4 linked regions of the Homo sapiens genome follow. The protein of the gene in region 3 purifies or fractionates together with the protein of the main gene of each other region. This does not show direct contact. Each region holds a gene or a part of one and is shown on either strand. Other genes may lie near its edges.

Evidence for each region. The genes of interacting proteins can lie anywhere in the genome.
Region 1: the proteins of RNF145 (region 3) and UTP11 purify together in Homo sapiens (affinity purification with mass spectrometry; one large-scale study listed by BioGRID and IntAct). This does not show direct contact.
Region 2: the proteins of RNF145 (region 3) and ESF1 purify together in Homo sapiens (affinity purification with mass spectrometry; one large-scale study listed by BioGRID and IntAct). This does not show direct contact.
Region 4: the proteins of RNF145 (region 3) and NOL10 purify together in Homo sapiens (affinity purification with mass spectrometry; one large-scale study listed by BioGRID and IntAct). This does not show direct contact.

What each region holds. Positions count from the first base shown.
Region 1 is NC_000001.11:38,022,734-38,025,573, reverse strand, and holds the end of UTP11 (probable U3 small nucleolar RNA-associated protein 11), read right to left. Parts: coding exon 2,765-2,840; intron 2,030-2,764; coding exon 1,946-2,029; 3' UTR 754-1,945; downstream 1-753. UniProt on the Homo sapiens protein: Part of the small subunit (SSU) processome, first precursor of the small eukaryotic ribosomal subunit.
Region 2 is NC_000020.11:13,713,572-13,716,372, forward strand, and holds the end of ESF1 (ESF1 homolog), read right to left. Parts: intron 1,597-2,801; coding exon 1,303-1,596; 3' UTR 754-1,302; downstream 1-753. UniProt on the Homo sapiens protein: May constitute a novel regulatory system for basal transcription. Negatively regulates ABT1.
Region 3 is NC_000005.10:159,161,054-159,165,060, forward strand, and holds part of RNF145 (RING finger protein 145), read right to left. Parts: intron 2,027-4,007; coding exon 1,879-2,026; intron 570-1,878; coding exon 213-569; intron 1-212. UniProt on the Homo sapiens protein: E3 ubiquitin ligase that catalyzes the direct transfer of ubiquitin from E2 ubiquitin-conjugating enzyme to a specific substrate.
Region 4 is NC_000002.12:10,686,923-10,691,389, reverse strand, and holds the start of NOL10 (nucleolar protein 10), read left to right. Parts: upstream 1-1,414; 5' UTR 1,415-1,528; coding exon 1,529-1,594; intron 1,595-4,467.

The DNA.
Region 1 (2,840 bases), on a different chromosome or scaffold from region 3:
TGATCCTCAAGTCTCTAAAACTTTCAGCATTGACTGAGCTCAGCACCTCCCCAGAAGGGAGTGCATACACACAATGGGAAGCATTTCCTTCCTGAAGGCAAAACCTACTGGTTTCTGTTTCCTGACCCTTCTTGCTGTTTTCCAGGGCCCCTGATTTAAATTCCACTGGGTACACCCTGAGGAAACAGGCTTCTAGTCTAGGCTTGTACAGGAAGCTCACAGTCATGGGCACTTATTAAGCATTAACAATTTTCTTTTAAAGCCTTACAATCCACACATGGCTGTTCTCCCTCCTTGGTGTAAGGGCTACGCAAGCCCCCCAGAACCCCGCTCCCTGTTCTCCCATGTTTGCTCTAAGCATGTTCAGTCCTGTCCTTACTGTCCTTGGCCTATAATCCTGATATGGGCAAACAAAGGAAGGAGAGAACCAGAGAAGAGAAAGAAGCTGGCCAACACACCCAGGGGTCCATATTCCCAGAGTGAAGGTCTGCACCAAGCTATTCTAGCCTTGGAATTGTGAGTTGGCATGGAGTGCAGAGGACAGAGACACAGCCAGGCCTATACTGATTTGAGCTTCATCAATAAGGAAGAGGTGCTCCCGTAGGTTCCTTGTTCCAAGAGTTTCTATCTGCAGCTGTTAAGTAAGAGAAAAAAATTCCTCCTTGGATAATTTATGAAGCCACCTGAATAGCCAATAAAAGAAGAATGAGTGAGGGTAAAATCAGTCTATCCACTAGATAAAACACTATGCAATCATTAAAAATAATATTTATTTTAACGTTTACTCTAGCATATATTACTGTAAAAAACTTTTGTGATGTAACAAACTGGGAAAGAGCTAATGATTTAATTAAAAAGTAGGACATCGGCCGGGCGCGGTGGCTCACGCCTGTAATCCCAGCACTTTGGGAGGCCGAGGCGGGTGGATCATGAGGTCAGGAGATCGAGACCATCCTGGCTAACAAGGTGAAACCCCGTCTCTACTAAAAAAATACAAAAAAAAATTAGCCAGGCGCGGTGGCGGGCGCCTGTAGTCCCAGCTACTCGGGAGGCTGAGGCAGGAGAATGGCGTGAACCCGGGAAGCGGAGCTTGCAGTGAGCCGAGATTGCGCCACTGCAGTCCGCAGTCCGGCCTGGGCGACAGAGCGAGACTCCGTCTCAAAAAAAAAAAAAAAAAAAGTAGGACATCAAATTGTTTACTGTAACTATAAAACACAAAAACATGGACAAAAAGTGATGCCTCGTTTTACAAAATGGAGGAAATCAACTAGACTACTCACAGTAATTGTCCACCTCCACAGCTCTAGCTCCTAGCACAGTTAAGCATGCAATAAATATTTGTTATTATTGAATAAGCACTGGGATTAGGAATGAATTAATCTACTTTCCAAATCTGCTGTAATGAGATCCTATGTTTCATAACAAAAAAAATTATGGGCTGGGCATAGTGGCTCATCCCTGTAATCCCAGCCCTTTGGGAGGCCAAGGTGGGAGGATCGCTTGAGGCCACGAGTTCAAAACCAGCCTGGCCAACATGGCAAAACCTGGTCTCTACAGAAAATTTAAACATTACTCAGACATGGTGGCACATGTCTGTGGTCCCAGCTACTCAAGAGGCTGATGCAGGAAGATCACTTGAGCCCAGGAGTTCAAAGTTGCAGTGAGCCATAATCACACACTGCACTTCCAGCCTGGCAACAAAGACCCTATCTCAAAGAAAAAAAAAATTAAGTATATAAAAATAAGACTAATTTCACAATCCAAAAACAATTACAGAAGGGAGGGAGATTTAATGTTGTCCATAGAAAGACATTAAATGTCAGACTGACAATTTAGTTATGGTTACAAACCGGAAAACCATGCCATTTGGAGTAATGGAATTTGAAGTTACTAGAAAACGACAACAGATTTTTGATACAGAATGACAAGGCTTATCTATAACACGTCAACGTTTTCGACGACTCTGAAATTTATAAATAGCTGGGGAGTTCACCGTTTCTTTCTTCACCTTCACTTTCTGAGTTTTATCCTACAAAAGAGTAAAAAGGTGATCAGTAAAGAGAAGGAAATGGTTTTGTAAAATCGAAAGGTTAATAAACTACCTATTAGCACCTGCTTCAGCCCTTCTCAAAGTTGAGAACGGACACAGCCCTACTGCCCAAGGCATCCACTGTAGGCAATGAATTAACTTCTCCCCTAGGCATCTAGAAAGTACTAGCTGTGTACAGTCCTAGGAAAACTGAGAAGAAAGGTGTTCAAGTAGTTGTTTCATTTAAAATTATAATTTTAATTCTCTCACGGAACCCCAGTTGAGAAAGGCTGACCTAAATGATCTACAAAGCTAAAGAATTTGACATTTAGAGGAATGATAAGAATATGAAAGAGGCATCTTATATTCCTCAGCTCTGCTATTTAACTACACAATGTTGTCTATTTTTAAACACCAATGAGTGACATGCACTGTTTTGTTAACCTGTTTAAATGTTACGGGAGCTGCTCATAAGCTATAAAGTTCATATGCTACCCGATCCTACCCTTTGCTGTTCCAAAGCACTGACTAATAACCCCCTTATTACCTCCTTAATCAAGGCGCATTTCAACACTGTCAGAGTAACAGACACTGGCTCAAACCACTGCCCCTGAGGAGCAGACATTTTCACTGGGGTTGATTTACACACAGCTGAAATCTAGTCTGAGTTAAGACCTTTACAAGAAAGAAAAGGGGGAAAAAAAAAAAAAGAGGCCTAAGGCTCTCTCTCCTCACCATAAGATCTTTGCGTGTTTGAATTTTCTGAGCAATAACGAACAATTTCTTCTCTCGTTCAATCCGCTGTGTCAGG
Region 2 (2,801 bases), on a different chromosome or scaffold from region 3:
TTTGTAGTTTCGGTAGAGATGGGGGGTCTCACTGTGTTGGCCAGCCTGGTCTTGAACTCCTGACCTCAAGTGATGTGCCTGCCTCAGTCTCCCAAAGTGGGGGGATTACAGGCGTAGGCTACCACACCCAGCCTATGGTCTTACTATATTGCCCAGGTTGGTCTCAAAACTCCTGGCCTCAAGCAATTCTCCTGCCTCAGCCTCCCAAAGTGCTGGGATTACAGGTGAGAGCCACCTTGCCTGGTCAGTAGGTTTGATTTTTAATACCCCAAATGTCAAGTTTAACCACAAACCTGGTCAAATTCCTGTTGTCTTTCAGAAGTTACCATATTTATAATTTGCTCCAAGTTACAAGTCTGGTTTTATTTACATTTACTTATACAGCATATCTAATTTGACTGTCAGTTGTCTATAATATTTAGACCAGATGAGATCCAAGAGTGTTAAGGCCTTAAAGATGTGTTTTAATTTTAAGAAGAATTAAGGTATCCTTAAACTCTACAGCAGCATATCCATCCTTCTAAAGTATTCCAAAAATGTGAAGGACAGACAGAAGACTTTTCTGTTGCTACCAAACAGAAAAACCACTGGAGAGCTCATGAATATTTCAAATGCAATTTACGAGCAATGCAACTCTAGAACTGCCTTTAAATGGAGTTGTCCTCTTAAAAAGTTAAAATCGGTTTTCAGATATTTTTCCAGAGAGTACTTTGAGATGCATAAAATGGAATAAATCAGTGCTATACAAAATAATGAAAATATTTTACACTTTTATTTACAAGTTAATTTCATAAACTATACTTAACATGACTAAACAACAAAAAGTTCTTGACTTCCATCCTTTATGGCTAGAAAAATAAATTATTTTAATAGTTATTTAAACATGCCTCCTGCTTCCAGAGAAATTAATGTATTAAATATATATATTTTTCAAATTATCCCTAACATTTACACAAACTTGAGTAGATACTGCTCTATTTTTACACAGAATTGTAAACAGCCTTTTAAAAAGCTAGAGTAACTTTCCACTAGTTAGAACTGAACATTGTAAAATATAAAAATTTTATAAACCCTATAATGCAGGTAATTTAATTATGACTGATCTGTAGGAATATACAATAAAAATTTGTCAGTCATCCACAATTAAGTACAATTATTTATGGAGAAAAATTTTACTATGTCCAGAAAAAGATTTTATTCATGTTCTTGAAAGATAGCTTTGTTCCCAATAAATATTCCCTCCTATTATTTTTGTACATTTTAGGAAAAGATGTATTCAGTTCAAAAATAAGTAACATCCAGTTATTTGACTTTTTGCTTTTTTCTTGCTTGAAACTGCTCTGTTTTGGTTTTTATAGATTTAATCAACATTGACAAAGCAGGATCAATGGACTTCCTTTGTGATTCCTTTTCAATCTCACTCTCTTTTTTCTTTATTGCCTGAGTAAGTTCTTGTTCTTTCCGTTCTCTTTGCCGGGCCTTCTCCTCAAGGATTTTTTCCATAGCTTTTGTTTTCTTGAAATTGGGATCTGAGGGGTCCAAATTGAACAAGTGGGAAGTGTACATTGCCTGAAACCGTGCATCGTTAACATTTACCTGCAAATCCAAAAAAAAAAAAAATTAATAAATTAATTAAACAAAATTACTAAAGCAAAAGGCCAGAAATGGGGCCAAATTTCGAAAGTTGGTGAGTTGATTATATAAAATACAAACCTGAGTGTTTGTACTGATTCATTAGGAAACTGTTTTTCCATAGCTCTTTATGGCCTACCTTTGGACCACAACTTGTGGGGCACCCTGTTCTTATCATGCAAGGACAATGTATTTCAAAGGGAATTATAGTGGGCCATACATATACATATTATGGCCGGTAACTACAACGACCACTTAGACAAAATGACTGTAGCAGTGGTTTGTGAGGCAGGGCTTTCCCATGCTTACAGCACAAAATCAATTTCTTACCAGCATAAATAAGCCAATCAGAACATCTGCTGGAGGCCCTGAACTCTGAGTACATGTTAAGAAATTTTAATCTTGGTGCCAAAATAAGGAACTATTGAAGGTGATCCATGGATCAAAAGATTTAAAGACCACTATGGCAAATAATCCATCTGAGATCAAGGTCTGGTCAGACACAAGCCCCAGATTTATCTTCTTTCTATAAAAACTTGTGGTTCCATGTTTAAGAATATACCCTTAACTGCAGCCAGCCTTTGAGGGCTGCCAGGCAGATGGGTAACCAGCAGAAAGGGAAACACACGAAATACAAGTCCACCTGGAGATAGATTGTAGCTTTACTTAGTTATCACGAGGCCAAGGGATTTGATACCCAGAACAAGGAAAAAAATCCTGTAAAAAATACTTTTATGCATATATTAATATATGAAGGCAGAATGACTACAAATCATTCTTTGCTTTTCATAAGGAAAGTAACTCAATAAAAACCTAACTGGAATGGGAGCATATGTGAAACTGACTCAAACAACAGAAGCTACAGAGTAGCCCCCAAATCCTTCTATATGCTACTTAGAAGCCATCTGTATGCTACCCTCCATTGTTTGAACAAATTTAAAATTTCCCAAATTTCCCCCATCTTACTCAGGGTCAGTTCTTCCACATTAATGGTTGGAAGTCATTAAGCAGTTTCTAACAGCTGTTTGTAGATTTTTGGTAGACGGCTCAAACTCATGCTTAGGGGACTCTGCAGCCATTAGGAATATGTACTCAACAAAAAGAGGAAGGAGTAATGGAAACAAAAAACACAGCAACTGAAAAAACATGGCTTACTGCGCTGGCCACTG
Region 3 (4,007 bases):
ACATTAGAACCCAAGGGACTAAATTTAAAACTTAATTTAGAAATAAAATGGAAATATTTTATCAGGTCTTTAATATAATTTCTGAGGTCCATTTTTTTTAATCCAGAAGATAATTTTGCCTAGAAATTTAAGTTGAATTTGGTTAATATGGTTACAGTCCCAAGGGATACACTGTATGACTTACCCAAACACATTCTTATTGAAGGAGTTACCTGATAACAGATGGCACAAATATCATTGTGTTTCTCAAGCTGCTCTTTCGTAGCAATGGGTAACGATTTAATCTTATTCACAGCATCCCTGCGGAGAAGAAAGCTCTTCCACCCCAGCTGGGCCCGAAGCCACACGTTATAGTAGGAATGAATGAAGATGATCATTGAGCCCATCACTGTCCATTCTCCAAAGATGGTCTCTGAGACGCCATAGGCCACCACACAGAGGGCCACAAGAAACTCCAGCAGGCGGTAAGTGCCATTCACATAGTAGATGACATCATCCATGTTTTCCACTGGCTCTTTTCTGAATTCCTCAACCATAAATAAGACATAAATAAAAAGTGTTCCCAGAACCTGAAAAAAAAAAAAAAATGTACGTATCTTGAAATATGATCACTAAGATACTTTTTTCATAGGCTTTAAACAATAACACATTCCTGATGTTTTTAGGGTGCAATATTTCAAATATACAGAAGAGTATCCAGGGGAAAAAAAAGTTTTAATAAATAAAAAATCAACTCTAAAGAGAAGACACTGATGACTAAAATGTGGGTGATCTTAGTAATCCAGGCATAGAAAACAAAAAGCCACACCGTCAGACGTGACTTTCCTAAAATGATTCTGATGAGTAATCAATTTTTTGATTCATCTTTTTCCCTTATTCCTTAGGTCACCAAACCTCATCAACTCCATCTTAATTTTCCTCATACCATAGTCATTCCTGTTCTACAACTCGCAAAGAAGTTTTACTTCTGCAAAAAAATAATGAATAACTCTTCACTGTGTTATGTTTTCCTTTACCTAGGTAGCAAAGATCTTCCTTTAAGTTACAATAAGCTTATCATTTCTAGGGCAATATTTTGTGTGTGCATGTCTGTGAAACATGTATCATGTCTGTATGTGTGCAATACACACACATCATATACATATATATTTATATACATCGTGGAACTATTGGTATTTTTGAGTGGAATTTAAAAAACACACTCCAAATAAGCTCTAACACAAGCTCTAAAAACTTTTAATATTTTAGTTACTTGTCAATTTAAGATTTATATGACACCTCTGTATCATACCATTTTGAAAAAGAGAAACTGAAAGGCTTAATTACCTTCATAAAAAATACAGTGACATCAATAGGTTTATGTAATATTTTCTTTTTTTTTTTTTTTTTTTTGAGACGGAGTCTCGCTCTGTCGCCCAGGCCGGACTGCGGACTGCAGTGGCGCAATCTCGGCTCACTGCAAGCTCCGCTTCCCGGGTTTACGCCATTCTCCTGCCTCAGCCTCCCGAGTAGCTGGGACTACAGGCGCCCGCCACCGCGCCCGGCTAATTTTTTGTATTTTTAGTAGAGACGGGGTTTCACCTTGTTAGCCAGGATGGTCTCGATCTCCTGACCTCATGATCCACCCGCCTCGGCCTCCCAAAGTGCTGGGATTACAGGCGTGAGCCACCGCGCCCGGCCGGTTTATGTAATATTTTCATAACCTGCCATCTAACTCCTGTGCTCAAATAAATGTAATGTGTTCTAGTAAAGAGAGAGAGAAGTTATCACCTGAATAGTCCACTTATAATCATTCATCTTGAAAAAATTTAATTCCTCCTCTGGGAGGAAAAATAACAAAATTGGTTATTATATAGAGTTAATTAATCATAGGCTTACCTGAAGAGAGGTAAGAATGCTGCTGGAAATAATGATAAGAAGCCAAAAATCCATGTGGAAAAACTGGCAAATCATATAAGCCATATAAGCAGGGAATACCAATAAAAATAAACAAAGGCTTACAGCACGGAAGTGTTTCCACAAGCTCCTGGAGAAAGACAAAATTATTCTTTTTAAGTGCCTGCCACCTAGTAGCACAACCACTCACATCAGCAGCTAACATCTCTGGTGCCATGATCAAATTTCACAAATTCCCACTGAACACCCTTCTCCATGCCAGTCACTGTACTAGAGTTCAGACCAAGTCACACAGGCTTGGCATGTCAAAGCCACCACACTCAGTCAATTGCAAAGTACAGCTGATTTTCTTTTGTTCCTCAATAGTTTGCTTTCAATTGCTACTCCTAGCAATTTCAAATTATTTCAGGCTTTTGTAGCCTTAAACCTTAACAATTTCAATAATTTTTCCTGGTTAAGACAGGGAGGGAGTATTAGAATAATTTGTGGTCTTTTTCAAATCTTATGACACCCTCTTCCCACTGTTTCCACTTGTGATGAGAATCTCTGCTACAGAGAGTGCAGTGTGACTAATAGGAATGACTCTCCAATGAGCAGGTATACTCATCCTCACATCTGTTGTGGTCAGGGTAAGTGGGAGACATGACTGAGAGCAACTGTATTGTAAGATCTACTACCTGGTTTTCCTCCCTCCTCCAGCCCTGATCTATCCAGGACACTGCCAGCCAGACTAATCCTCCTAAAGCTCTACTATCGTAATATTTTCAACACTGTCTCTAAATTTTTGAGCCTGGCATTTGAGGTCCTCCACTCCTAATTTTTCCATCCAAGCTTGTCAAATCTGTTCCTCATAAACCAAGCTGCTTATTAACTAACTGCCCTCTCAGCAAAACACAAGCACTCTTACGTCCCACTAGAAATTCCTCCATCATGCTCTCCATTTCTCTAAACCCTTTAGGCTAGTTCAAGCTAAACAACTTTGGCTTTCAATTGAAATAAAGCTCATGGCTACAAAAAAATTTAAGCTGTTTTAATTAAACATCAACATCTGTGATATGTTCTCAAATCCAAGTAAAGCATCTCAAAGAGACACAAATAACATAAATCATCTCTCCTACCTTTAATTATAATATAGTCAGGAAGTAAAAGTTACCACACACAAGGTCAAATGCTATACAGTGTGGTCCTATTATAATCAGTAATTCAGAGAAGAAAGTTAATTATTATGGTAAAAATTAAAGCTGCATACTTTGGAAAGTGTTTTACATTTTTTCTTGCCAAAAACTAATAATAATAATAATAATAATCAGAAATTAAGGAACAAATGTAAACTTGTCAGTAGCTTTGCTTTGAGATTCAGCAATTTTAACTTTTTAAAGAAAGGCAGTAGCTGTACTGTGTTAGATGATGAATTATAGATCTAATAGGGCAATCTGCCTTAAAACCTTAAATATATTTTTTAAAAATCAAGCCAGCTATGATTTATATGAAATATGTACGTATTTATAAACACACATGCATAGATTTAAGCACACACACAGAAATGTATATACAACAATGTTATGTCAAGAGTTTTACATTTATGCCTAATTTTAATACAGGTGGATATATACACACAAACATATACATAGACACACATATATGTCCTTATCTAAATAGTTAAAATTAAATAAAAGCAAATTTCAAATAAAATATAAAAATAAGGGAAAATTACATTGAAACCTCGTGCAATAGGTTAAGTACTATAAAAATGACAACCCATTTCCTAAAATGTTTGCCTTTTGAAAATTTGCTACATAATTTGAATAAGTAGACCATAGTTCTAATATTCCTTGTTAAAAACTGCAATAAAATTTACAGATAAAATAACCAATTATTTCTATGGCTAAAACTAACTCACACATCCTCCTAAGCTAAACGTGGAAATTACCTACAGTTCAAGCAACTCCAAAGACGTATTTATGAAGATTTTCCCTTTAACAATTATTTCATTAATAGAAAAGTTGTTTCATGAACTATTAGTATCATCTCTTAATTGTCCTCTAACTTGAGAATTAGGACGCTTTTCCTTTCCTTTTTTAATTCCCAGTACACTGAATTGAATTCATCAC
Region 4 (4,467 bases), on a different chromosome or scaffold from region 3:
GCTAAATGTAAATATGTAGCAATGCCTAATAGAGGCCAGGCACTGTTCTGGTACTCTGGGTAGGGGTGGATGGGGTGGATAGGGAATATAAGGACAAATGATATAGGGTCCACGAAGAACTCTCAACCTAATTCTGATGCAATGTGGTGTTGGTATTTGAGAGTTTCCAAAATGTTGTGGGTAGGAGAGCAAAACAATAATATTTGGGTTTTAGAAAGTAAGGCATAAAATAATTTGTTCATTAAATCAAAGGAAGTAAGAAGATCACTTGGGAAAGTTATAATCCAAAAATAGTTAAGTATTTGAGTTTCAGCAGGAGGAATGAAAACAGATTACTTTAAGGAAATATTTCATAATTAGAAATATCCAGGTTTAGATACTGAAAGTGAGGGCCAGAGATAGGAATGGGTTGAAGATGACGCCACAGTCTTCTTTTTTTTTTTTTTTTTTTTTTGAGACGGAGTCTCACTCTGTTGCCCAGGCTGGACTGCAGTGGCACGATCTCAGCTGACGGCAACCTCTGCCTCCCGGGTTCAGGCGATTCCCCCACCTCAGCCTTCAGAGTAGCTGAGATTACAGGCGCGCGCCACCAGGCCCGACTGATTTTTGTATTTTTAGTAGAGACGGGGTTTCACCATCTTGGCTAGGCTGGTCTTGAACTCCTGACCTCAGGTGATCCGCCCGCCTCGGCCTCCCAAAGTGTTAGGATTACAGGCGTGAGCCACCGCACCCGGCCTACAGTACTTCTAACGTAACATCGCAGAAACACTGGAGGAGAGAAGAGAATACACTTCCACTCGGAATTCGCACCCTGGTCGCCTTCATTCGCTGGGTTCACTCGCTGAACTGCCTCGCCCCCGCCCGGGAGGATGACATCTCGGCCTGGGCAGAGACTCGAAAGCCTCCTCCTGCCGCTCGGGATGCTAACAGCAGGGAGAGCTGTGTCTAGTTTTTTTTTTTTTTTTTTTTTTTTTGAGAGGGAATCTCGCTCTGTCCCCCAGGCTGGAGTGCAGCGGCGCGATCTCAGCTCACTGCAACCTCCGCCTCCCAGGTTCAAGCAATTCTCCTGCCTCAACCTCCCGTGTAGCTGGGACTACAGATGCCGGCCACCACGCAAGGCTAATTTTTTTGTATTTTTAGTAGAGACGGGGTTTCACCATATTGGTCAGGCTGGTCTCGAACTCCCGACCTCAGGTGATCCGCCCGCCTCAGCCTCCCAAAGTGCTGGGATTACAGGCGTGAGCCACCGCGCCCGGCTTGTGTCTAGTCTTGCCCGTAGCAGCGTCGCCGACAGCCACGCCGGGTTGTCAGAGCCTCACTAGTTTTTCTCCCGGCCGCCGCTCTTCCCGGATTCAGCCACCTTCCCTCTTCCGGGAACTTGCCCGCGTGTTCCGGCTCCAGGAAGTGCGTCATCAGTCGGCGCCAGCGGCCGCACGCCGCGGAGCAGGGGCTCGGAGGTCCCGGGATTACGGTGCTCGAGCACGCTGGTGGGAAAGGACCCGGGACTTGAACAGTGTTGTGCGGCGCCATGCAGGTCTCCAGCCTCAATGAGGTGAAGATTTACAGCCTCAGCTGCGGCAAGTCCCTTCCTGAGGTGAGTCACTTCCCGGCCCCCTCACTCTCGAGCTCTTGGGGGTCGTCCTCCTCGTGGGGCAGCCGCCCCTCTCCTCGGCCCTAGCCTCTGTTTTAGCTGGACGCTGGTCACCCCCCGACTCGGGGAGGCCCAGAGGCGGCTGACAATTTCCGGGGGAGGTGTCGGCATTGGGAGACAAGGACACTGCCGTCACCGCGCCAGAAACTGGACCAAGGGATAATCAGGGTCAGTGAGCTTTGCTGGAACTTTTGTAAAGTTCTCTGTTCCAGAGAACGCAACCATTTGGGCCTCTTTGGGTGTTCACAGTCCCTGCCGTACATCGAGGAGGAAAACGTGGCAGATTCGTTGACACATCTCTCCCCCATATGGCCATCAGCTGTTTGTGGAGTCCCTATCATTTGCCAGGTCTTAGGGATACAACAGTGAACAAGGGAGATACAGACTTCGCATCTGCAGAATTTATGGTGTAGAGGACAGTATTTTCGAGACTTGTTGAACTTAACCTGATTCCTAGTCTTAAAGTTGGAGAGGGCTTGGACAAGTCGGTAATTCTCTTCCAATCTTCTCGTGTTTAGTAATGCAGCTGAGATTTAATAATGCGTTTAATATGCAGCTGAGATCCAGCAAGGGGAAGGGTGACTTGTCCAGCATGACACACTTAGGCTCTGAAACTTGTCTTTTGTTTCTTATACGTGATGATCCAGCCTCTGTCCAAGCACTACCACTGAGCACTACCTTTTGTGGAAGCTCATTTCCATTTTGAGACTCTGCACTTGTTAGAAAGTGGTTTTCAAATATGTCACCTTATAGCATGCCACTGTTGGCCTGAGTCCTGCCCTTGGAAAACAGAATAAATATAGCTCTCCTTCCATGCGTCTGCTTCTACAAAAATTTGGAGCCAGTGCTTAGGTTTTTCCTTTCTTCCTAAAATTCTGGTTTGAATAATTCCCTGTCTTCCAGTTGTTCTTCACACCCCATGAGCTTTCTCATTTTGTTCATTCATTCTCCACATGTATTGAGAAGTTACTGTGTGCAAGCAACTCTGTTTTAAGTATTGGGATCTATAGTGGACATTTCAGATAAGGTTCCCTGTTGGGGAAAAGGGAAATAAACAAGTGAGCAAATAAGGCAATTTAAGGTAGTCAAAAAGTACTTTTCGTGGTGAATGATTAGAAGAGAGCTGTTTTGGATAAAATATTGAGAGAAAGTGTTTTGGATAAAACCTTCGGGGAAGGCCTCTCTACAAGAGGTGACATATGAGCAGAAACTTGGATGATGAAGAGGAGCCAGTCGTGTGAAGATGTGGGGAAGAGTTTTCAGTGCTGAGAACAGAAAGTGCAAAAGCCCCACATGGGAATGCACTGGACATGTAGGAGGACGGAAGAGGCACAGGTGTGATTGCACTATGCTGAGTGAGGGGGCGAGAGCAGGGTGGATGAGGCTGGAGAGGTAGGCCTGGTAGGAAAGGTAGGAAGTTCAAGTTTTATTCTTAGTGCTGCTGGAAGTCACTGTTGTGTGGGCTGCTGTGCGACAAATGTCTAGCTGGGGAGGGTTCAAGTCGGGATGAATTAGGTAGTCCAGGTGAGCGACTTCGGTGGCTTGGGCTTGCCTGGTAACAAAGAAGATGCTAAAACACAGTGAGATTCAGGACATACTTTGTAGATAGGGTAATGGAACTTGCTAATGGATTGGACTGTTGGTAGAGGGAAGTTGAGGTGACAAAAAGGAAGGAATCAGAGAACTCTTCAGTTTTGAGTCTGAACAAGTGGGTGCACGGTGGTGCTGCTAACTGACATGGAGAAGAATCAAGAAGGAACACATTGAAAGGTGGAGAGGAGGAACGTAGTGAGCAAAAAGAATCAAGATTTTTTTTTGAGGTCGCGTGCAATGGCCTGATGTTGGCTCACTGCAACCTCTCGGGTTCAAGCGATTCTCCTGCCTCAGCCTCCCCAGTAGCTGGGACTACAGGCACGTGCCACCACACCAGCTAATTTTTGTATTTTTAGTAGAGACGGAGTTTCACTATGTTGGCCGGTATGGTCTCGATCTGATCTTGTGATCCACCCACCTCGGCCTCCCAAAGTGCTGGGATTACAGGCATGAGCCACTGCACCCGGCCCAAGGTTTTTATTTTCAATAGTGAACATTTGAAGTTCTAATACATACCAAATGGAGATGTTGAGTAGTTAGCAGTTGCATGGATACTAGGATGGAGATTGCAGGTGAATTTACTGTCGTTATTTGGGACTAGGTGAGATCAAATTGTGAGAGAAAGAACAGAGAAGATAACTAGGCTGAGGACCTGAGGCAGTCTTAGCATTTGTCATCCAAGAAGAGGAGGGGAACCCAGCAAAGAAGAAAGAGTAGTGGGCACTGATGGAAGGGGAGACTGGGAAATGTGTAGTTTTGTAGAAGTAAGTGTTTCAAGGAGGAGGTGGTGGTCACCTGTGTCAGCTGCTACTGAGAGCTTCAGTAAGATGAAGGCAGAAAAATGACCATCGACTTTGGCATGATGCAGAGCGCCCTTGACCTTGGCAAGGAGCTCCAGTGGAGTGGTGGGGAGGGTAGCTTGAGCTGAGTGGATTTGGAAACCCCTGCTTGTCCTGTTTAATATTTTCTGGTTATTTCTTTGAGGTGTGGTGCCTAAACTACACGTGGAACCCCAGTTGTTGTCTGATCTGTGCAAATATTGCTTCTCTCCTTCTGGGCTTTACCTTTTTATTAATGTAGAGAAGCCTCTACGTTTACTCCCCTGGTGATCCTAGGCAGTCTCCTGGCTTTAAGCACATCTGCATATCGATAACTATCACATTGATGTTTCTAGCCCTTACCTCTACTCTGAACTGGACTTGTGTATCCAACTGTTTCTTGAC